4 linked regions of the Homo sapiens genome follow. The protein of the gene in region 2 purifies or fractionates together with the protein of the main gene of each other region. This does not show direct contact. Each region holds a gene or a part of one and is shown on either strand. Other genes may lie near its edges.

Region 1 (7,050 bases), on a different chromosome or scaffold from region 2:
CCGGCCCCCTGCGCCCCTCAGCACCCGGGGAATACCTTAGTGAGAGCACTTGGCACGTTGTGTTGATGCACTTGGTCGTCTCTGTATGCTTGGTCTGCATAGACATTCAGTCCACAAGTTTGGACACCAGACGGCTTTACCTACTTTCACACAACCCCTCCCCACTAAGTATGTTCCCCTTCGGCCTAGAACTTGCCCTTTCCTTTCTCTTTGTAATGTGCCTTTAGTAGCCCTCATCTTTGTATTTTAATGATTTTTTTTATCCCACTGTAGTGTAGGTATTATTCTCTGCTCTATCCTCAGCACCCAGGACAGTGCCAGGCATTTGGTAGTATTCTGTGTGTGAAAGAGAAACACGGTGCTATTTGTTAAAGTAACTAGGGACAGTGCATCTGAAAACCTGAAGACTGGAAGGGCAGGTGAGGTGACTAGACCTGTGTCCTCCAGGGAGCAGAACCAAGACAGAAGCAGCTGAAAGGAGCCAGAACTGACTCAGATTCTGAATTTTCTAGTGCTTTAAACTAGGTTTAAAAGGGAAGCAACTTCCACTGGGGATGTCTGAGCAGCTGGATGGCCGTTTGCCAGGGAGGACGGAGAGGGATTTAAGCATCCACCAGAGTTTGGCCAGGGTTACCTTGAAGATGCTTCCAACACCTATGTTTTATAAGTTTACAAAACCAGAAGAGCCATTTCCCATGTGCCACCCCTGGGCCACCTGCAGCTCCTTGTTGCTTCCCTTTTTTTTTCCTTTTTCTTTTCTTTTCTTTCTTTCTTTTTTTTTTTTTTTTTTTTTTTTTGGAGACAAGAGTTTTGCTTTTGTCACCCATGCTGGAGTTCAATGGCACGATCTCGGCTCACTGCAACCTCCACCTCCCAGGTTCAAGTGATTCTCCAGCCTCAGCCTCCTGAGTAGCTGGGATTACAGGCGCCCGCCACCATGCCCGGCTAACTTTTGTATTTTTAGTGGAGACGGGGTTTCGCCATGTTGGCCAGGCTGGTCTTGAACTCCTGACCTCAGGTGATCCACCCACTCGGCCTCCCAAAGTGCTGGGATTCCAGGCGTGAGCCGCTGCGCCTGGCCTGTTGTTTCCGTTTCTACAGCAGAGCAGCAGAGTTGGCGGCAGTCCTGATGTTTCTCTGCCCTTAGGTTGCGCGTGCCGTTCATTTGTTCAGGTACTTACTGAGAGGCTGGCTGGTGCCAGATGCTGTCCCCGGCACCAGGAATTTGGCAAAGTAGAGACTTGGAGCTCCATAAATGCAGGGAAAAAGTGCTACTGATTTTTGCCTCTAGCATCTTACTGTACATTGCACAGAGTAGGAACTCCTAGTGCTTGAATGAATTACTAAATAGGAGTTGAAATAACCTGTACCGTTTTCCGAGGCTCTATTTTGTCTGTTTTTTAAACTGTGTAAAATCATATGAGATACACTAAAATTGTATAAAATCATGTAAAAATATCATATGGGATACACCTGAACTTTAATCTTTAAATATTGAAGTTTATTTTCCCTTAACGCTTAATAAAATAAAAAAGAAAATTGGGTGCTCAGACTACCCAAATAGAAACTACCCTGAAGTATAAAAGATTTAGGGAATCACCTGTTTTCCCTTGACATCATCTGCCTTTTTTGCCATTTCCCCCAGGAACTCAATGAGTTAAAGGACCAGATTCAGGATGTAGAAGGCAAATACATGCAGGGATTGAAAGAGATGAAGGTACCAATTCACAGACGTGTGGTCTCACGATATTAACCCAACTTAACTTAAAAAAAAAAACAACATCCTAAAGAAGAAATTCAAAGTGCATGCTTACTGTAAATAGGCTCCAGGGTGTAGAAGAACTCACAATGGCAGGAGTGCCGGCATGGGTGTACACTCACCATTTTCCCAAATGCATTGTTTGAACCAAGATTGAAAATGTAACTGCCCAGTAGAAAAGGTTACTAACATACTCCCTGATGCATGCCTTAGACTTACCATCCTTCCCCCAGGCTTAAAACCAGTTTCTCATTTCCCATAGGCGTGTGCCAGACACTTGAAGAAGGTTCTTGGTTTTCTTCACTTTTTGTAGTAGTTGTATACAAAAATGCTTCAGTTGATTTGCTTCTCAAAATATCTGATGTCTACTAATAAGGCCGTCCTCACATGCCACACTTTTGAAACATCCCAATTATTTGCACCCTGTAAAATGCTACTAATTGAAGTAAAGACTGACTATGGCATTGGCTTTCTTGGAGCGTGTGCACACTGCTTTTAGAGTGTGCAGTGACTTCATTGCACCAGCCAGGAGATGTGGTTGCCCTGTTCCTTGACAGTAAGGTGGGCAATCAGTGACTGTCTTCCTTAGGCAGCAGCGGATCATGGATCTGGAAGTGGGTGGCGTATCTGTTACTTCCTTTTCAGCCCCCTAGAAAGTACCTGCAAGATCATTTGAATTTAATATCAAAGGGCACCAGACAGAGGAGGTGACATCGATCATGACTAATTCACTATCTTCATATCTGCCACCTTTCCTGAAAGGGGGAAAAATAAGACTCTGGCTTTCAATTCATGCGAAAAGGAGCCACTTGGCCAGGCGTGGTGGCTCACGCCTGTAATTCCACACTTTGGGAGGCCGAGGTGGGTGGATCACCGGAGGTCAGGAGTTTGAGACCAGCCTGGCCAACATGGTGAGACCCCGTCTCTACTAAAAATATAAAAATTAGCCAGGTGTGGTGGTGCGCACCTGTAATCCCAGCTACTTGGGAGGCTGAGTCAGGAGAATCACTTGAACCTGGCAGGTGGAGGCTGCAGTGAGCCGAGATCGTGCCACTGCACTCCAGCCTGGGTGACAGAGCGAGACACTGTTTCAAAAAAGAAAAAATGCTGCTGGGGAGCCACTGAACCAACCGGAGACCCGCTGGTCCCACGTGAAGCAGCTGTCCTGGTGTGGAGGTACAGAGCTAGACCAGCACTGGTCCCTCCAGCCCCCTGGTAGCCTCTGCTGCACCTGAACTGGCAGCTCTTGCCGCTGCCTTTAGCTCTGCATGTATGCGCCCTGAAGGTTCTGCCTCTCTGTTTTGGAATCGCCTTCCCCTCCTCATGTTTGGGGACCTGCAAGGGTGTGAGGCACGTGAGGGCATCGCCATGCGTATTTTACAGGCCTCTTTCTCTGGACTGTCCTTCAAAGGGAATGACCTTTGTCTTTCCAGGACCTACCCAGTGAGATCTGCCTGCCATTTTCCTATGAGTCAAAAATCTGAACTCACTACTGCTCCTTTCCTGGTTCATAAGCCAGAGTAGGGCTGGTTGGCAGTCACTGGCTTGTGGCCCTATGTAATTATCTCAGCCATCACACACTGGCTCTTTCACAAGGGCTGGTCACACGCCTCGAGTGATTCTTCAGAAATCTGTTGAACAGCCTGACACCCAGCCCTAGGACGCCGTGCTGGGGGGATTCCCCAGCTACTGAGTGGGGCCAGAGACTCTACTGCCTCTGTGACCACATCCCTTTCCATACTGGTATCTCGTTTGTTCTAATGAGTGTGTCCATTGCTTTTAATAGTGAATTTTCTGAGCAATGAGAATTTGACCAAATTGAAAAGGGGGATTTCCATGCATTTGAAATTGCCATGTGTTTCTTCTTCTGATCCATTTGCTCTAAGAAATATAGTCTAAGTTTAGGACTGAGGGTTTTTTTTTAACAGAATACTGAATGATTCTTTGTTTTGATTTTTTTATTGCAATTTCAAAAATATGACCTGCTTTCCACAGGACTCTCTAGCAGAAGTTGAAGAGAAATATAAGAAGGCTATGGTTTCCAATGCTCAGCTAGACAATGAAAAGACAAACTTCATGTACCAGGTTGATACCCTAAAAGATATGTTGCTGGAGCTTGAAGAACAGCTGGCTGAATCTAGGCGGCAGTACGAAGAGAAAAACAAAGTAAGCATTAGTATGATACAGAATGTTAACAATAGGCTGCGTGCAGTGGCCCATGCCTGTAATTCTGGTACTTTGGGAGGCCAAGGTGGGAGGATTACTTGAGCCCAAGAGTTCGAGACCAGCCTGGGCAACATGGCGAGACATCATTTCTAAAAAGAATTAAAACAATTAGCCAGGTGGTACATGGCTGTAGTCCCAGCTACTTGGGAAGCTGAGGTGGGAGGATCACTTGAGCCTGGAAGGTTGAGGCTGCAGTGAGCTGTGTTGACACCACTGCACTCCAGCTTGGGCAACAGAGAAGACACTGTCTCAAAAAAAAAAAAAAAAAAAGGGAATGGTAGGGTGTGTGTGTGTGTGTGTGTATGTATGTATGTATGTGTGGATATATCGTGTGTATGTATGTATATATAATGTATAATTTACATTATGTATTTTTATATTTTTAAACAATGGCTCTCCGCTTATCCAGGAAATCCAAACATCTGAGAATAAAAGTACCATACTCTTTGCCAAGTGACTTGAAATATTGATACGTATAATTTCAACATGTAAACTGGAGACAGTTTTTCTAGGAGAACATCTAAGCTAAAAGCAAAACCATGAAAAAACATACCTATGAAAGAGCCACCATGCTCAGATAAGGTGCGATCAGATGCTTCAAGATTTTCCTATTCATATGTATTTTCTGATTTTTATTTTGTTCTCTCTCAACACCATAGGGAAATAGTTATGAGTATCAAAGATTTTAAGAAAATTATATTATTTTCTGCTGATTGGGAAAAGACACAGTTACTCTACTTAAGAATTAAATATATCACCAAGCTCAGAGAGAGAGATAGTCTTATCTGAGCTTTCATTAGGAACCACTGGAACTAGTTTGTTAATAGCTGAGATCAGATATAATTTCTATTGAGAGTCTCAAGCATGAGTCATGTGTTAAGATAAGTAATGACAGCGGACTGATTCCACGAAGGCTGGGCTTGGATGTTCTTTAGATAGAAAGCAAGGAATACTTTTTTCATACTTTTAGGAATTGTCCAATTTTTCAGAGATTCTGAGAAAAACAGAAAATGTAATGTGTGAGTGTCGTTGTTGTTGTTGTTTTTAACTGGCTATTATCCTCTAAATCCAAAGGGTTAAAACCAAGGTACCCTTGACAACCTTCAGGCCTGCTTCTTCGACTGCTATAGAATTGAGTTGGAAGCTGAAGAACATTTTACGCACAAAGTTCCTTATAGCTGAACTCTGCAAGAGGGGAGCTTTTCACAAGACTGATGTCATGTGGGAACGGAGGAGTGGAGAGCACAGCCCAGCCCCCCTTCGGGTGGGGGCCTGTAATGCATATGCATTCCTCCTGGAATGCTGTCATTAGGCATCATTCAGTGGACTGAAAACTCCCGAGTCTCACTCCAGAGAAGCTGGATGGTGCTAGAATGCTGTCCCGAGATGGACACAGGGGCCATGCAAAGCCCCACAGGAGGGCCCTTGTCATAGCCAGGAGGGCACCAGCCACCCCCAAGCTAAAGGAAGTGGGCGAACAGAAGTGCCAGGGTGAGCAGAAGCTCAGGCCAGATCCCATCTCAGATCACCCGCCTGACAGGTCTAGGGAAGGAGCGTCCTGCAGGCCTGTAAGCTGTCAGCAAAGTGAGTTGGGTCTCAGGCCGTCACCAGGGATTGCGCTGCTGTGACTGGGCAGGAACACAGCAGAGCCGAGCTGCCAGCTTCCTGGGCTGAGCCTCAGGTGGGGAGGCCAGGCCTGAGGAGCAGCTAGGTTTTGCAGGCTCTCCATTTGCTCCCCCAAACTCTCCTGTTTTTGTCTCTTAAGGGGCAGCCCTGAAGCACAGAGCTGGCCACCAGCTGTTCATGAGAGATGCTTTAGTAGGCCATGTTTATCTCCTTTTTATCCCAAAGAGTTTTCCTTGTCATATTTCAGCAGGGGCCATTTTATGGTAAGTCCTTGCAGGGCAGCCTCACCCAGGCTCTCAGCACAGTGCTGTGGAAGACACCAGGCTCCCTGGGGGGGCCCTTCGTCGGCTCTTGCTTCACTGTAGATAAGAAATCAGAAAATCCTTGTTGATTGCATCAACTCCTCAGGTTAATTTGACAGTAAGTCATCAGGCATCATCTATAAAGTCCAGAGGAATCTGTTTGTGTTGTTTGAAAGGGCTTGAAGGCCAGGTGCAGTGGCTCATGCCTGTAATCCCAACACTTTGGGAGGCTGGGGCAGGTGGATCGCTTGAGGTCAAGAGTTTGAGACCAGTTTGGCCAACATGGTGAAACCCGATCTCTACCAAAAATAGAAAAATTAGCCGGGCATGGAGGCAGGCGCCTGTATTCCCAGCTACTTGGGAGGCTGAGGCAGCAGAATCGCTTGAACCCAGGAGGCAGAGGTTGCAGTGAGCTGAGATCGCACCACTGTACTCCAGCCTGGACAACAGAGCAAGACTCCATCTCAAAAAAATATATAAATAAAAAATAAAATAAAAGACCTTGAAGATTGTGATGATGTAGTAGCAGGTGATTTGTTCCACAGAAACTATAAATCGTGAGAGCCTGAACTGGCATGCCAGAAACATGGGATTCCACTGCTTTAGTGCTGTTTTTCTCCTTTACAGGAATTTGAAAGGGAAAAACACGCCCACAGTATACTGCAATTTCAGTTTGCTGAAGTCAAGGAGGCCCTGAAGCAAAGAGAGGAAATGCTCGAGGTAGGTAGCATTCTCCTGCTTTTCTTTTCCTTTTTTCCCTTTGGAGCATTTTGTCAGGCCATGACTATCTTAGCTTAGGCTGCAGTAATAAAATACCATACACAGCATGGCTTAAACAACAGAAATTAATTTTCTTACAATTCTGGAGGCTGGGAGTCCAAGATCAAGGTTGGGTTCAGGTGAGGCCTCTCTTCCTGGCCTGCAGACAGCCACCTTCTTGCTATATCCTTCCTCCAACGGTGGAGAAAAAGCAATGTCTCTGATGTCTCTTCATATAAGGACACTAATCCTATTTGATCAGGACCCCACTCTTATGACCTCATTTAACCTTAATTACTTCGTAAAAACCCTATCTCCAAATACAGTCACATTGGGCATTAGGGCTTCAACAGATGAATTTAGAGGGACACAATTCAT
Region 2 (3,495 bases):
GGTGTGGTGGTGGGCGCCTGTAGTCCCAGCTACTCGGGAGGCTGAGGCAGGAGAATGGTGTGAACCCAGGAGGCCGAGCTTGCAGTGAGCCAAGATAGTGCCACTGCACTCCAGCCTGGGCAACAGAGCGAGACTCCGTCTCAAAAAACAAAAAACAAAAACAAAAACAACAACAAAAAAAATTAGCCAGGCATGGCAGCATGCACCTGTAATCCCAGTTACTTGGGAGGCTGAGGCAGAAGAATTGCTTGAACCCGGGAGGTGGAGGTGGCAGTGAGCCAAGATCGCACCACTGCACTCCAGCCTGGGGGACAGAGTGAGACTCCGTCTCGGGGGGAAAAAAAGTGGAACCATTCTGGCTGAAAGAGGAGAGTCTCTACAGACTCCTTTATCCTCTAGTGGCTCATAAGGGACCTTCCCTTAGCCCTTTCTCAATGTTTTAGAAACTACTGCCTTAAGAAGTTTATGGAAAGGACCCCTGGGGCTGAAAGAGGGTGGGAAACTTCTTTGGCAAAGTGTAAGTGGTCAGGCTTTACAAATGCAACAGATTCAGAAATAGGTAGGAGGGAGGCTTGGAACAGGTTCCTTCTCATTCCCTGTGACTCCTCTTCTTACCCTCTCCAGCAATTCTGGACATGTACACACTGATGAGTAACAAGCAATACTATGATGCCCTCTGCAGTGGAGAAATCTGCAACACTGAAGGCATTAGCAGTGAGTGTGTTTGGGGAGCATGGTCCCCAGGGCTCTGGGCAGGCAGTCCTAGTGTCTGGGAGAAGGTAGAAAAGGGTGAAATTGATGATTCTGGGAGAGGACATGCTGCATGAGTGATAAGAAAACCTGTGGAGTGCCAGGTGAGGTGGCTCATGCCTGTAATCCCAGCATTTAGGGAGGCCGAGGCAGGTGGATCACCTGAGGTCAGGAGTTCAAGACCAGCCTGGCCAACATAGTGAAACCTTGTCTCTACTAAAACTACAAAAATTAGCTGGTTGCATGCCTGTAATCCCAGATATTATACTTGGGAAGCAGAGGCACAAGAATTTCTTGAACCCGGGAGGTCAAGGCTGCTGTGAGTTGAGATTGTGCCACTGCATTCCAGCCTAGGTGGATAGAGCGAGACTCCATCTCAAAAAAAAAAAAAAAGAAAAGAAAAGAAAACCAATGGGGAGGAGATTATGGGGAACATGTTGGGGTTCCCTTCCTGCCCTCATTCACCAGGTGTGGTACAGCCTGACAAGTATAAGCCAGTGCCGGATGAACCCCCAAATCCCACAAACATTGAGGAGATACTAAAGAGGGTCCGAAGCAATGACAAGGAGCTGGAGGAGGTGAACTTGAATAATATACAGGTATTTGACTTGCATCCTCCAAACCATAACACCGGATAACCACTGACATCCGAGAGTCCCTTAGCCCACCATCTCCTATTCCCCTCCGATAGGACATCCCAATACCCATGCTAAGTGAGCTGTGTGAGGCAATGAAGGCAAATACCTATGTGCGGAGCTTCAGTCTGGTAGCCACGAGGAGTGGTGACCCCATTGCCAATGTAAGGCTAGTTGACATCCCCAGCCCTCTCCCCACATCTTACATGCACCTGTTGCATGGCTGTCATAAAGGGTTTTGCTAGGGAGTGCTATTCTCATCATGCCTTCTTAGGGCAGCCCTCATGGAGACTCCTACCTTCAGTGCTATGGCTCATAACTCTCTACTCTCTCTAACACCCCTAGTCCCACTGCACATTCATCTCCCTGCTTTCCCCTGCTATCCGCCCTGCTTTCTGTATCCCTCTAGCTCCATTTACAGCACCTGAAAGACTCTTCTCAAAGAGCTGTGTTTCCCTCTTGCTCCTGTTCTTTCTTTCCTCAGTCATCTGTGAAACTGTTCCCTAATCCTAACCCAAGTCCCTACTACCCAGGCAGTGGCTGACATGTTGCGTGAGAATCGTAGCCTCCAGAGCCTAAACATCGAATCCAACTTCATTAGCAGCACAGGACTCATGGCTGTGCTGAAGGCAGTTCGGGAAAATGCCACACTCACTGAGCTCCGTGTAGACAATCAGGTCAGCATTCCCTTCCCCTGATGTTAGCATTCAGTCTCATTGAGTCTCCTCCCTGAGCCAGCCAGTGGGGCAGCTATCTTACTTAATCTTGCTTGAATTCTCCTCTTCATTGTCTCTGTGAGGGAAGCCAAGTCAGCATCTCTCTTCACCCACTGTGGAGAAACAAGCTTCTTTGACCTCCCAAAGGGGTCTGTGATGTGGGATGGTAAACAGCCCAGAGAGGGTGACTGTCAGCTTTTGCCTCTCCCTCCCCCAGCGCCAGTGGCCTGGTGATGCAGTGGAGATGGAGATGGCCACCGTGCTAGAGCAGTGTCCCTCTATTGTCCGCTTTGGCTACCACTTTACACAGCAGGGGCCACGAGCTCGGGCAGCCCAGGCCATGACCCGAAACAATGAACTACGTGAGTAACTGCAGACATGATGTGTGGAGTGGTCAGGGAAGTGCAGAAATTGGTGGATCCTCCTGAAAGCAGACCTAATGACTAACAGCCCAGGGTGCTACCAAAGAGCTATTCATATGAGAATTTCAAATCCCAAGAGTGATCAGAAAGTAAACAGAAAACTCCCCCTGCCCCAAATATGGACCAGTAGAGAGGTAGAAAGGATGCCAGAGATAATCATACTTGTTTAGAGGTATCGTAATTTTATTTGTGGTGTGGTTTCTTGTTTTGTTTTGTTAATGTGGGATGGGCCTGTAAGGTGGCCTAAGACACTACCAATTTATGAGTTTGGCTAAGGGACTGGAAAGGAGAAGAGTGCCTTTGCAGAAAGCAGGAGCTGGAACAAACACTTATGTTTAATATTGCTCCTTTACAGGTCGCCAGCAAAAGAAGAGATAACACTGCATTTCCCTTTACCAACTAGCGCTGGGAGCACTGGACACTTAAATCCTCATCTGTCCTCCTTTCCTGTAAATAAAAGCCCTTCTATCCATTTTGCCTGCCTCCTTCCTTGGGCTTTGGGGTGAGAATCTTGGCGCTAACCCCCAAGGGTTACTGCCAGTTCACCAGGGGATTATTTATACTCTGGGGATCAGCAGGCAGGGAGGTTCAGGTTACTAGGAGGAGGTGGGGGTGTTCCCTCCCTTGGTGTTCCCCATAACCCTGCCAATGCCTTTTGACTCTTCTACTTTCACAGGGAACTTAGCCACAGCCCTGTTTCCAGATGTGGCCAGGTCCCCCTAGTGCCTACCTGCAGTCCTTATGTGATTTGAAGGGGGAAAGGACTTTGAGTGGTAGTGGAGAAGCAGGCAGACAACATGAAGGGCAAAGACCTCTTTTTGACAGTCTTATTAATAGGGCACCAGGCTGATGCAGCTGACGCTTGGCATGGCTTTGGTAGGAGGTGGGGGAGGGGTTAGAAGTATGGATAGCCGTGGCTGGGTGCGGTGGCTCATGCCTGTAATCCCAGCACTTTGGGAGGCCGAGGTGGGC
Region 3 (7,050 bases), on a different chromosome or scaffold from region 2:
CTTTCTCTATGACTTTATAAGAGCTTTTATTGTGGTTATATTATACTATAAATTTATAATATTATAAGTATTATAAATTACTATACTAGCTAGATTTGTGAAACTACTGAAGAGGATGGATGCATTTTTCTCTTACATCATTCTATTTGTTATCTATGCTTTTAACATCCAAAGTAAAGATGAGGCACTTACTTATGCTATAAATGATTACTTTTCTTTTTTAATACAATTGGGAAACTTCTCTGGAGTTACTTTTCAGAATATCTGAACCATTTTTGGGGTAAAAACACAAAGCTATAAAACAACAGCCAGTGAGAAAAGCTGATGGCTCATCAAATTGCATAAATTAGTGCAAATTAATTAGCAATAGCTAATTAGAGTCCTGTTGATGCCTGTTTGTGTTGAGAGTTATTAAAAGCTCAACATAACTTTTAGTGGTTGATCTGGACATTTACTAGTTCGTCTTACTGCTGCTAGGGAACTTATTAGTAAAATTATTTTTGATAGTTTTTCTGAAACCTCAGCTCAACAGAAAGCTTTTAGTTTTTTAAATTATCTTCTTTATAAAGAGATTCATTTTATGTATACTTTTTACACCATTGAATTTTATTAATATGTATGTGTATTGGCATTCGAAACAAACAAAAAATACATACAATCCAACAGAACAAACAGTAGATGAAGAAGGCAGGGAAGAAAATAATAGAATTTGTAATGAAAAGATGAAGCTAGGAGTAAGGTTATTACACATAATTGAATGTGATAGGACATGCATAGTTGTTAGTGTGGGTAGTAAAATTTGCTTTGAATTTTATAGCGGGTAAAATAAAGTGTGAAGCATGGTCAGTCACAATCTTTATAGTGTATGCAGGTCAAAAACAAACCAGCTGCTCAAGAGGGACAAATTTTCTTGGCAATGAGGCTAAAGAAAAATATCACCCATCAATCTGCATACAGGTGATATTGTGTAGCGGACGAAAATGTCTTCAACAATATAAAGAGAACTTTGAGGGGCATGGTGTAATTCCTAGAAAGCAGGCTATGCTGGAAAATGACTGAAAGGACAAAGATGAGTTAGGTAGAAGACAAGACCACATGCTGAGAGTGGGAACCGAGATGGGACAAGAAATGTGAGAGTTTGAGAAGAAGGGAAAAGATTTAGAAAAGCCATTTTTTAAATGTCACAGGTTTTACTAAGAGATGAAGTTACAGCCTAGATAAAATCATGTGGCATAAAAATGTCCCAGATCCAATTAACCTTACTTCACGACTTTATTCTGCAGCAAAAATATGAGGATTCAAGTTTAGGGCTAGAAACTGGTTAAAGTCAAGGGGTGATGGACATCCCCTGTAGGGTTATTAGAAAAAATAAAAAGTAAAATAATAATAATAATGATGATATAAAGTCAGGGTGGGAAGATTCTAGAATAATAAGTAACCTAAGGTCAGGACACTTTATAATTCTTACATTACTTGCATACATCTATAGTCAAAAAATTATTAATGAAATTGATACTAAAGGTAGTTTTTGAGATGACTGATTATGACCATGTGGCTTATGTAGGATAAGAAGTCAAGTGAAGTCATGAAGGGCTTATGGATTCTAAATTAACAGCAATCAAATTTGCAGTGTCTCAGGGAAGATGCAGAGAAATAAAAGAACAGAAGGTAAAGAGGGTGAGGTCAAAAATAAGGGGTTTCAATTTCTAGATCACTGAAGTTGACAAGTTCCAATGGATGTTTCTAATTAAATATATTTTTCAAGTTGAAATGACAATATGCAGATTTTACATTAAACTCCAAGATCTTAAACATTTCTCTACTGGTAAAATTTATATTTGGAAAATCAACATTTTCCAGGAAAACTGGATTTCTTTTCAACATTGCAGTGAGCCTATTGTGCTACTGAAATACTTGCCCAAACATGCTTTAAATACTTTGTAAATAAGTAACAGAAAATAATTTCGTTTTGCCATATCCTGTAGTTTCCTTTACTGGCTTACTCCACACATTCCTGGAAGGTTTGTCATTTAAAATTGTTTATTCTTCTTTCTTAATTGTTGTGTTTTCTGATGACAAAAATTAAACATGCTGTTGTTTTAAAAATAAAAACCAAAAAACATCAAACCCTAAACATTACAGAAATGTACAATTATGTCTCCTATAATTCTATCCCCTACAACCACTGTTTAGGTTTTCGTACATATTATGAAGCATTTACTTATACCCTAATATTTTTCTGAAGAAGCTTGACAAGTAGTCTAAGAAAAGTCAGAGAGAAAAATGAAGGGGAAAAAATGGAAAAATGAGGGTACCTGAAATAAACTGAGCATCATTGATGTGCCAGGTACCAGCTAGTTGCTCCACATTGACTGTTTCATTTTAGCTGCCCAGCAACTCAGAATTTTTTTTTTCAATTTTAAAAGGTACACAATGTCAATTTCCTGGCTTTGATAATGTACCATAGTTGTATAATATCCATTTTGCAGAATTTGGATGATGGATACACAGGACTTCTCTGTACTATAACACTGTTACAACTTTTTTGGGGACTCTAATTATTTCAAAACAAAAAGTTAAAATAAAAATAGAGGCACAGAGAGAGATTGAATAACATGCTTTAAGTTCACACTGCTAGGGAATGAAAGTTAAGCATAAATTTATGAGATGGAAATAGTTGCTAGTGAATAATTAACTAAAATTAATCCCTTCAACATAGATTCATCAGAATCATATAAGCACCTGCAATATAAAGATGAATAAGATACAGTCATTGTTTTAAAGGAACTCCAAGTCTAGTGGGTTCTAATTTGTTATCTACTATAGAGACTCAATATTATGTAGACTCGACTAAAATATTAATTAAATGACACAGATCAAATACAGGCCAGATCCTGCTATGTTTTCAGGCATATGCTTTTATAATTATCTAGATTATAAATTAGCATATTTAATTTTTCTAATCTCAGGGTAGATAATTAACAAGGTTAGAATTCAGAATTCATCAGTGCCACTAGCTCTTCCTGCCCTAAAACATCTTAGCATTCTAAGAAACTAATGAACCCAGAAAATCCTCCTCTCAGAAGCAGGATTCATTCCTACTATACTGTAATCCTAGGCCTCATTGTAGGTGCTCAGTGGAGGATTACAGCTTTCATTTGTTTATACTCTTTATAAAGAATACAGTATGCACATTTACATTGAGCAAGGTTATATTAATCTCATGTAATTCTTTTGAAGCCTCAAGAAGCTTTTGGAATTCTCTATTCTCAGAGTTTATAATAAACAAATAATAAATTCTTCATGAGATAGGGCTAAAAACCCCAAAGAAGTATAAATGAACCAGAAAAAACAGCAAGAACATGGATAAGCTAAATATTGTAACTAGTAGATGAAAACTTATTTGAAGAAAACAGCATCATGCATGTAAAATTCCCAAATCCTTTTAAGCAGTAAACCAGATACCACTTGGGATTAGAACCAGTCTCAAAGGTAGGCAGCTAACTTATGCTGGAAAATCTGCAGGACTCCTTTCTAAAAATTTTGAGTGGTGACGACAGTCCTGAGCTGTAGGGGAACAGGGAGTGGGTTGGGCTCCCTCAGTGCTCTGGGGGGAGCATTTACTTAGTACTGTGTCACAAAACAGACCTACTCAATTAATTGTAAACATAGCTAACTGTACCTCTTTAGGGTGGAAAACTATGTTATCTAGTCTGAAATCTCCATGAATCAAATTCTCTTCATTGTCATTATCGGGCAAGTTCTTCATTAGCCACTCCGATAGCTGTTGCATGGCAGGGATGTCCTGATGAGCTGCAGCTTGATATTGCTTTGTCCAGGTTGATACCTAAAGACATATAAATAAGAAAAATGGTAAAGCTGAAACTGGAATGTAGGATCTAGCAATTCTAAAATTAAAACAAAATTCAAATGCTGTTTTACTCCTAAATACTTAAGACCCATGCTGGTGATACTCCTGTCATCCTAAAACACTCAAATCAGCCTAAACCTTAAACATTTAAGTCTCTTTTCCATATAGTTCCATTTTACTTACCTAGTTTTTTATCAAGAGAAAAATACTGGCCTAGGGATCAAGAGATATGGGTTCTAGTCTTTATTCAGCAACTACTTTGTAGAAGAAAAAAAAAGAATGCATACAAACACACACACGCACACACACACTCTCTCTCACACACACACACACACACACAAATATATAGGCATAGATAATCTCTGGAAAGGGTCACGAGAAATAAGTAACCCCTGAAAAAGGGAATATGGGGACTAGAAGAAAAAAGAAGACATTTACTTTTTTTTTTTTTGAGACAGAGTCTCGCTCTGTTGCCCAGGCTGGAGTGCTACCTCCACCTCCCAGGTTCAAGTGATTCTCCTGCCTCAGCCTCCTAAGTAGCTGGGATTACAGATGCATACCACCACACCCAGCTAATTTTTGTATTTTTAGTAGAGACGGAGTTTCACCATATTGGTCAAGCTGGTCTCGAACTCCTGACTTCGTGATCCGCCTGCCTTGGCCTTCCAAAGTCCTGGGATTACAAGCTTCAGCCACCGCGCCCAGCCTACTTTTCATTTTAATACTCTTTCTTATTACCCACAGAATTTTCTAAATATTTTACAGGTATGAATAGTGTAAAGATCTTCTATTGTTCTTAGAATTGAATGCAAACAAATCAACTTACTCGTAAAGTCCTCCAACAGGTGGGACCATATTGTTTATTTGCTTTTTTATCTCCATTTCCCGAGGTATCTTTGCTCAACTTAGTGCAATAGAGCAAAGACCTTTACTTGGTCTTATCTAGTCATATCAACCTGGGTTTAAATTATATCTAAGCCACTTACTTGTGTATTACTTGATTGATGCAAGCCTCCCTTTCTTCATCTGCAAAATGGGAGTAATAATACCTATATCTTAGAGTTGTTGTAAAGATCAAAAAAGAGAGGCCGACAACTCACTCTGCCATGTAGGACCTAGCATATAGTGAGTACACTCTAAACTTTAGTTCCCTTTTCTCTTCCTTAACCCCCACAAAATGATATGCTTACAAAGGAAAGCAGCCCCATATATATCTAGTATTGCTTTCCTTTAATTTAAAATGATCTCCATCACTCCAAATTTTATCTTTCCTTAAATACTCATTATAAGATATCTCTCCCAGGAAGCTTTCTCTATATAAGCAAGGGCATCCCAACTTCCACCCTTTGAATCATGGTGAGTATCAAACAATTTACCACTAGATTTTACACTCTTTTATACCATTTTCAGGTTTCGTGAATGACATGCATGTACAGGTCTCTCAAAAATGACCATAAGTTCCTGTGGGGAAGAACCTATTGTATATTTTTCTTGATATTTAACACAGTACTCAGCAGGTATTAAACACACAGTCAAGCTTAATAAATGTCTGCTAGTCCAATTGAGAAAGAAAAAACTGTAAGCCGGGCATGGTGGCTCACGCCTGTAATTCCAGCACTTTGGGAGGCTGAGGCGGGCGGATCACGAGGTCAGGAGATTGAGACCATCCTGGCTAACACGGTGAAACCCCATGTCTACTAAAAATACAAAAAAATTAGCAGGGCGTGATGGCGGGAGCCTGTAGTCCCAGCTGCTCGGGAGGCTGAGGTAGGAGAATGGCGTGAACCTGGGAGGTGGAGCTTGCAGTGAGCAGAGATTGCACCACTGCACTCCAGCCTGGGCAACAGAGGGAGACTCTGTCTCAAAATGATGATGATGATGAAGAAGAAGAAGAAGAAGAAGAAGAAGAAGAAGAAGAAGAAGAGGAGGAAGAAGAGGAGGAAGAAGAGGAGGAAGAAGAGGAAGAAGAGGAGGAAGAAGAGGAGGAAGAAGAGGAAGAGGAAGAGGAAGAGGAAGAGGAAGAAGAAGAAGAAGAAGAAGAAGAAGAAGAAAAAACTGTATAGTTAAAAGTATTGGAAAATTAAGAGTCTAAAACAGAAGATTTTGCTGAACAAAACCTAATATAAAAACATAAGATAATTTTATACTAAAAACTAGTCATTCTGAAGGACAATGTTAAAAGTCATGGCCAAGCTTCAGAAAACTATACAATAATAGCTTTTTTTGTTGACTAATAAGGTATATTATTTACAAGAACTTGAAAAAAATAGCTATTAATGTGGATGCATTACCTGTCTTTTGCAGTACCCAGCACCTATACCATATCCTTCCAGCTGCAGTGACTGTATATTCAAGGAATGTAACTGAGCCAATGTTTCTACCGTGGCCACATATATGGCTGAACGTTCTGCTGGGCTAAGTCCAGGAATTGTTAAATCACGGAAGATTCGACCCTATGGAAGTGATTACAACAGATTATTTAAATGTGTATAATCAATACTTTGTCGAATATACTAGAAAAACATTCATTTGTGAAACATATTTAATATTAGAGTATACATGCCAAAGGGAAAATAAAAGGATATGCCAAGATGAATATAAACATCAAAACTACTCTCAACTATTTTACAGAAAAAATTTAAAACACATTTTGAATTTATTGTTCTTAATGGCTTGACCTATGTGGAGTCTGTTTTCCCTGCTACCTTATGGACAATTTGGTTATTGCCATTACAGATAGCTCTTTACTGACACCTAGAGGAAAATTTAAGAATAAGTCAATACCCCCTAATTACTAAATTTGTTTCTTGTCTATTCCATCCCTCCCTTTGTAAGTGCTCAAATTTGAACAAAATTGTAAACCTTTGCAATGCAATCTAATTACCTAAAATGTTAAATAACAAACTATATCATTTATTAAGTATCATAATAAAACATCTTAATTAACTTCATAATTAAAAGTAAAAGCAACAAAATAAGATTAAGTGTTAATTTACCTGCACATGTTCCATTACGTAAAATTCTGTTCCAATGACAGAAGTATCACTGCAGTACAGTATAGGCTTGGGAACGGGGAATCCAATTGAAAACAAGGCTTTCTGGACTTTAAATTCTCTATCAATCTAAATAGGATGATGAATCATTAAAAATCAGAGAAACTGATTTAATTGTAATTAAAT
Region 4 (7,050 bases), on a different chromosome or scaffold from region 2:
TAATAATAATAATAATAATAATAATAATAATAATAATAATAATAACTTCCTGCCTTAGTTTTTGCAATTGTGATCCACCTTATGAGTTCATAAGTACTTCCATGCCCATTATGGAAATAAATACGGTCATAATTTTACTTTTTACTAAGACCGAAGGGTAAAGTCAAAGAAAAACAATATTGAAAATAATCCTGGTGGATTTCTTCAGGCATACTCCACTCTCAGGGCCCCTTTGTGAAACACACCTGCTCATCAACTTTGCGCTGCAGCTGCATGATCTTGTTCTCCATGCCGATGTGCAGCTTCTTATAGCGCTCCACTGAGCGAGCCTCGATTTTGAGCTTCTTTAGCTCACGCTTGGCCATCATCCGCCTGAAGCAGCACTGAAGGTAGATGATGGCATGCATGCTCCTCTTGTAGTGTGTGCGGGCCAGCCAGCCCCGGACTCGCTTCTGAATGATGACTGCTTTGTGCTCACGGAGTATCTGCAGAAAAGGATAAGGGCAAGCAATGTCAAGACCCTGGACTACACTCATGATTATCAATCTATGTCGGGCTGAAAATCCACACATTACCTAGAGGAAAAGACATAAAAGTTGAATTGACAATGTACTATGTAGATTATACTTATCACAGATATATGGAGGCTACAAAATTATTTTTAAAAGTGATTTGAAAAGTAGACTTTAGAAGGTGATTTCAGAAACATACATAAAAATGTGTCATATGCACATATTATGTGTATAATTCTAAGCAGAATATAGAGTTGGAAGCTGTCTAAATAAAAAGCACCAGATTACCAAAAGAAAAACAACTATAAAAAGAAAGAAAAAATACATTAGGTTTCTTATTAGTATATGATTTCTGTTGGCAACAGATGATCCTCTATAAAATTAACAGAACCAGGCATCCTGTAAACTATGTGCTACTAAAATAAGAGATATCCCCACCACCCTGACTGCTGATACCACCTCACTATGCATTATTAGGCCCGTGCATGAGGACACGGGGTATGGGCAGCAAACTGTCTGTAGAGGCCAACACTTGGGGTACTAAAAAGTTTGTACTGATTTATTGATTTTTTTTTTTTTTAGAAACTAAAAGATGACACTCTTGTTTACCACATTTGAGGAATACCATTCTAGTGAGGATTTTCCATTGCTATTTCAAATGTAGCAAGGATCCACTTTTGGGATTCAAAGGTAGGAGGGATGGGGCTTTAAAATGAAAGGTAAAAGTAAAAAGATGTGAAACAAACTAATCTTACTTTTGATTTTATGTTACATTTCCTAAAAAAAAATGATATTTCCCTAAACTTATAAACAAACAAAAGTTTGCCTTATTAGATGAATTTGTTGTCGCTAAAGAGCACCAAAAAGACACCGTGTAAACATTTTCTAGGAAAGATGGAGAAGAAATTCTTGAATTTTAAGAAGAGGTAGCCAGGCACAGTGACTGGATAAATAAAACTATTAATGCCAATTTTCCTGTTCCATTTGCTTCTCCCATGTAACTTTGGACATGGGTCCATTTTTGTAATTTTAGTCAAATGGAAACAGCATTTAATCAGAGCTTCCATTTTCAATCTCACTTTCATCATGAGTGAGAGAAATTAATCAACACCTGTACTCTCTTTAAGACCCCCCCACTCCAAATCTCATGAAGGGGAACCTTGGACCTGAAATACAGCTAGAAGGAGCACTAATGTGATGGCTGTTGGCTTACATGTGAGCAAGCCTCTACGCTACCACCTTCCACCCTGTCCAGTCACAGTGGGAGCCTGAGCTGGCCGGAGGCTGCCACTGCTAAACCAGTGACCTCAAAACCCAGCTCAGATGTTCCTAAGGAAAGTAGTGAGGAACACAGGAAGGTAACTAGTTTGGTGTATCTGAAAAGCAACTTCAAACCTCTTTCCTCCCTAAAATCTCACGCTTATATAGAAAGAGCATGAGACTACATAAAGGAGGGGTGAGCAGAAAGATCTGGAGTAGCTATCTTCAAAACACAGCTATTAAATACACTCATTCAAGCCTCACCAGTTTCGAATTTTTTGTTGTCTAAAATCACTTCAAATAAAAATAAATAAATAAATAAATAAATAAATAAATAGGGCCTAGGTCACACCCATATACTGTCTGTGCTTAGAGACCCAAATCACCCCATTAATGCTCCTTCTAATGGTGATGTCCATAGAGCTCTAATATCCAGGCTTGTATTTCTCACTGATTTGAAATATAGCCTGTAGGATAGACTCCAAACCTTGCCAAAATGAAAGAGATAAAAATCGTTCATCAATGGTCACAGGTGATAATTAAGACTACTCTGGTGACCCCATTAATTATTGCTAGATGTAAGATTATTTGTCAAAAACTTTTGGAGCATTGTATCTGTCAATACAATTTTAACCACATTAATGTTATAATTTGCCTCCTCTTCACCATGGTAAATTCTTCCAAGGTTGTCTCATTCTTGGAATAACCTTTAACCTGTTTGTCATATATTCTATCTATTCAAAGTTCTCTGTAGTCATCTGAATAGGGGGCCCCAAGGAAATTAGGTGCTAATCCCTGGAACCTGCAAATGCTATTTATTCAGAAAAAGGGCCTTTGCAGATGTGATTAGGTTAAGGGTCTTCAGATGGGAGGATTATCCTGGATCACATGGGTGGAACCAAATGCTATCATAATTATTCTTATAAGAGGCAGATAGGAGAAGTCAAGTCAGATACACAGAAGAGAAAATGCTGTGAAAACAGAGGCTGAGACTGGACTGATGTGGCTACAAGCACAGGAATGCTGGCAGCCACCAGAAGCTGCAAGAGGCAAGGAATGGATTCTCCCCTGGAGCTTCTGGAAGGAGAGCAGCCTGCTGACAACTTGATTTTGTCCCATTGATAATGATTTTGGACTTCTGGTCTCCAGAACTCTGAGAGAATTAATTTTGGCTGTTTTAAGGTAACAAGTTTGTGATAATTTATTATAGCAGCCACAGTAAACTAACATACTTTTTTTTTCAAATTATATAAACAAAGAGAAAGAAGGAGGTAAAAGTTTTTTTCCCATTGTTTTGTTAATAACTGTATGTGATTATTTAGTATTTTAAAATGCATTTCAGGCTGGGCATGTGCACAATGGCTCATACCTATAATCTCAGCACTTTGGGAAGCCACAGTGGGAAGACTGCTTGAGGCCAGGAGTTTGAGGCTGCAGTGTACTATGACTGCACCACTGCACCCCAGCCAGGGTGACAGAGCGAGATCCTATTTCTAAAAAAGAATTTTTTAAAATAAATAAATATGCATTTCAATAGCTGGTTGTCCCCATACAGTTCCTACCTTCATTGTAGCCCCTGTGGTACTCTGTATAGATGTGAAATTTGGTTAATGCTAATAGAATGAATAAACAAAGTTGAAAATAATGCCTCACCTTGCGATACCTATTTCTGGCCAAGAAGCCTCGCAAGTAAGACTGAAGAACGATAGTGGCAGCTCGTCTAATCTTGTACCTCCTGCGGACCACATACATGCGCCAGTACTTTTGAATGATGGTTGCTGCCTTGGTTCTGCGCAGAAACTTAGCATAGCTGGCCAAAGAAAATAACATTATGTTGTCAGTAATCAGAAAAAAATGCAGGAATACATATTAGAGAAACTTAAAGAGTGTCACTGTTTTAGGCATAAATAGTACCTCCATTGTATTATTCTAATAATGTGCATGCTAAGTCAACATTTATATTTACTTACATTTGTATAGCAATTTATAGTTTCCCAAAGTATTTTTGCATTTATTATCTCATTTGAGCCCTCCCTAACTCTGGAAAGTAGGATGGCCCACATTGCCAGATTTTACAAGAAAGCAAAATTCACAAAAATTCATTCTTTCTACAACAGGATCCATTTACCCCAGGCCATGCCTCTTTATAGAACAGACAGACATACACAGTAATCTCATACTTAGTTATCACCAGCTTTCTTGGATCTAGCCATTATTCATCTACCATATTTTTCCTGATTTTGTTAGGCTATAAGCTCATGATTAATTCAGTTCTACTTATACTTCTCAATTAAAATTAAACTAATAAGTAATCACACTAAAGTGTAATTCTCTTCCAGACCCTCTCAGTTAATTGCTCCCAAAAATTATACAATGAAGTCATTATTACCTAGCTCATATTCACGACTGTTTTAATTGATACATGATTTCCTCAAGCCCAATATAAAAGTATCAAAAATAAAAATTTTGAGGACATAAGTAAGCAGCAGTTTGTAAATGTTTTGAAGATAAATCTGAATCATTCATAAGGCTGAGTGAAATTTTATTCTATTTAGCTGTCCTATGAGTTAATTTGTTGTCCCTTGGAACTAAGAAAAGGTGAGGTGTTATCTTTTCAGCTATGGTGACCAGTCAAAACTGTCCTTGGTTGGACAGTGAATTAGATGGGCACTCTACTCTGTCCCCAGGAGACCTACCATCGGGCCTGGTAGCCCCGCACGTATCTCTGCATGGTGATGGCTGCCTTCCGCATGCGTAGGTACTTCTTTCTCAGCAGCCACCCTCGGATGGTCTTCTGGATCCGGATGCAGGCAGCTCTCAGTTTGTCAGCTCTCAATTTTTCTAGATAGGCCACTTGACCGGCACGGAAAAAGATCTTTGTCTTACCAAACTGGTATTTGTCCTTGTCCTATTTTTGGAAGAAATTGTATATTCAGAAATAATAATCATATAAGTGAAATTTAAAAGAAAAAATGTCTAAAAGCAGAATCAGTAAAGGAATGACTCTATTAGCTAAAACTTGGGCTACATCACAATTAACTAATGGAGCCAGATTTTTAATCCTATGCAAGTTGAGCAAATAGAAGGGATTTTAAGAAAAACTGCAGTTTAAGAGTTATTTTCCAGAATTATTCTACCTGGAATTATTATCTGAGGCCCAAAACTTGGTTGTGGGTTATAGGCAGTTATTATTTGCTTGTTTGTGTTTTAAACATCTCAAGGAAATGGAGATGCTGACTCTCTCTGACTGACCCAGGTTGTAAGGATTACAGCGGGCTGTATATTCCATGAGAAGCTGAAGGGACAAAAACACCAGTGTGAAGAATAAGGCAGGAAGAAACGTTTATGAAATAAAATTCAAAAACCAAAAACCAAAATCCTTGGGTATTCATATTGAGTTATGTTTCTAAACAGTTAGCTCTTGGCTTTATCAATAATATCTGAAAACAAACTAACAAAACCCCATAAATATGTTTAAAATCCTACAAATTGGCCGGGTGTAGTGGCTCACGTGTGTAATCCTAGCACTTCGGGAGGTCAAGGCTGGCGGATCATGAGGTCAGGAGATCGAGAACATCCTGGCCAACATGGTGAAACCCTGTCTCTATTAAAATACAAAAAATTAGCCGGGCATGGTGGCATGCACCTGTATTCCCAACTACTTGGGAGGCTGAGGCAGGGGAATTGCTTGAACCCAGGAGGTGGAGGTTGCAGTGAGCCAAGATCGCGCCACTGCACTCCAGCCTAGCAACAGAGCAAGAATCCGTCTCAAAAAAAAAAAATCCTTTCAAACTCCTTTTACAAAAACATAATAATTTATATTACATTGTGATTCACCTTATCTAGAAGTATGCAAATCATTAATCATTCTTGCATCAAAGAATGGAATTTATATGTAAGAATCATTACTGTGACCTGGAATTCTTTTTTTTTTTTTTTGAGATGAGTCTCGCTCTGTCTCCCAAGCTGGAGTACAGTGCTGTAATCTCGGCTCACTGCAGCCTCCGCCTTCTGGGTTCAAGCGACACTCCTGCCTCAGCCCCCTGAGTAGCTGGGATTACAGGTAAACACCACTACGTCCAGCTAATTTTTGTATTTTTAGTGGAGACAGGGTTTCACCATATTGGCCAGGGTGGCCTCAAACGCTGGGCCTCAAGCAGTCCGCCCGCCACGGCCTCCAAAAGTGCTGGGATTAAGGGCGTGAGCCACCATGCTTGGCCATGTGATCTGAAAGTCTAAGGGAAAACAGAGAAAATCATTTTTCCCTATGAGTAGATATCTCATATTATCTCATATATGAAACCAAAAAATCTGACACATCCACATATATCTAAAAAATCTACAATTATTTCAATTTAAATCAATAAAGTTTACATTGGAAACCTAGCTAGAAAAGTGGTCCTTACCCGCATCCCGCTTCACACCTCACACCAACCCTGCCTCCATCTTTCAGCCTCCTCTGCCTAACTAAATTCCCACAAAGCCCTGATCCAGGCCTGAAATGGCCTGGGTGAGAGGACCAGGAATAGGCCTGTTCCTACTTTCTGCTCTACATTCCCACCTGAACACAGGTTAGAAGGGGATTGGGCAGGCTGGGCGCAGTGGCTCACACCTGTAATCCCAGCACTTTGGGAGGCCGAGGCGGGCAGATCACGAGGTCAGGAGTTCAAGACCAGCCTGGCCAACATGGTAAAACCCTGTTTCTACTAAAAATACAAAAATTAGCTGGGTGTGGTGGTGTGCACCTATAATCCCAGCTACTGGGGGGGCTGAGGTAGGAGAATGGCTTGAACCCACGAGGCGGAGGTTGCAGTGAGCCGAGATGCCACTGTACTCCAGCCTGGGTGAAAGAGCAAGACTGTCTCAAAAAAAAAAAAAAAAGAAGGGAATTGGGGCAAACTCAAAAAGCCCCAGTTAAAAAAAAAAAAAAAGCATTGCTGAGGAAGTGGCCTTAGCTCTTTCAAGGAAAAAATATTATTAACAAAAAAAAGGCATCACATTTAGTTCACAGCTAGTAATTATGATCAATTAGCTCAAAGTGAGGTACTCCATCTAGGATAGTGTTAACCAAGTGAAAATATTATTTTAAAAACTTTTCATGAATCTTTAATTCTCTAAGACCAAGATCAGTAGTTCTCAAAATATAGTCCTCAGACAGCATCGGCATCACCCGGGAAATACAAATTCTTGGGCCCAACCTCAGACCTACTGAATCAGAAATTCTGATGGCGGGGCCCAGCAATCTGTATTTTAACAAGCATTCCAGGTCACAGTAAAG

The links.
Region 1: the proteins of TMOD4 (region 2) and LRRFIP1 purify together in Homo sapiens (affinity purification with mass spectrometry; 2 studies listed by BioGRID and IntAct, with this or other methods). This does not show direct contact.
Region 3: the proteins of TMOD4 (region 2) and ACAD11 purify together in Homo sapiens (affinity purification with mass spectrometry; 2 studies listed by BioGRID and IntAct, with this or other methods). This does not show direct contact.
Region 4: the proteins of TMOD4 (region 2) and MYO5A purify together in Homo sapiens (affinity purification with mass spectrometry; 2 studies listed by BioGRID and IntAct, with this or other methods). This does not show direct contact.

What each region holds. Positions count from the first base shown.
Region 1 is NC_000002.12:237,749,555-237,756,604, forward strand, and holds part of LRRFIP1 (leucine-rich repeat flightless-interacting protein 1), read left to right. Parts: intron 1-1,645; coding exon 1,646-1,717; intron 1,718-3,754; coding exon 3,755-3,925; intron 3,926-6,540; coding exon 6,541-6,633; intron 6,634-7,050.
Region 2 is NC_000001.11:151,169,487-151,172,981, reverse strand, and holds the end of TMOD4 (tropomodulin-4), read left to right. Parts: intron 1-624; coding exon 625-714; intron 715-1,218; coding exon 1,219-1,349; intron 1,350-1,441; coding exon 1,442-1,549; intron 1,550-1,918; coding exon 1,919-2,062; intron 2,063-2,318; coding exon 2,319-2,463; intron 2,464-2,685; exon of another isoform or gene 2,686-2,878; coding exon 2,879-2,901; 3' UTR 2,902-2,995; downstream 2,996-3,495. UniProt on the Homo sapiens protein: Blocks the elongation and depolymerization of the actin filaments at the pointed end. The Tmod/TM complex contributes to the formation of the short actin protofilament, which in turn defines the geometry of the membrane skeleton.
Region 3 is NC_000003.12:132,635,810-132,642,859, forward strand, and holds part of ACAD11 (acyl-CoA dehydrogenase family member 11), read right to left. Parts: intron 6,994-7,050; coding exon 6,868-6,993; intron 6,325-6,867; coding exon 6,163-6,324; intron 3,848-6,162; coding exon 3,683-3,847; intron 1-3,682. UniProt on the Homo sapiens protein: Acyl-CoA dehydrogenase, that exhibits maximal activity towards saturated C22-CoA.
Region 4 is NC_000015.10:52,371,879-52,378,928, forward strand, and holds part of MYO5A (unconventional myosin-Va), read right to left. Parts: intron 4,681-7,050; coding exon 4,469-4,680; intron 3,583-4,468; coding exon 3,426-3,582; intron 486-3,425; coding exon 246-485; intron 1-245. UniProt on the Homo sapiens protein: Processive actin-based motor that can move in large steps approximating the 36-nm pseudo-repeat of the actin filament. Can hydrolyze ATP in the presence of actin, which is essential for its function as a motor protein. Involved in melanosome transport.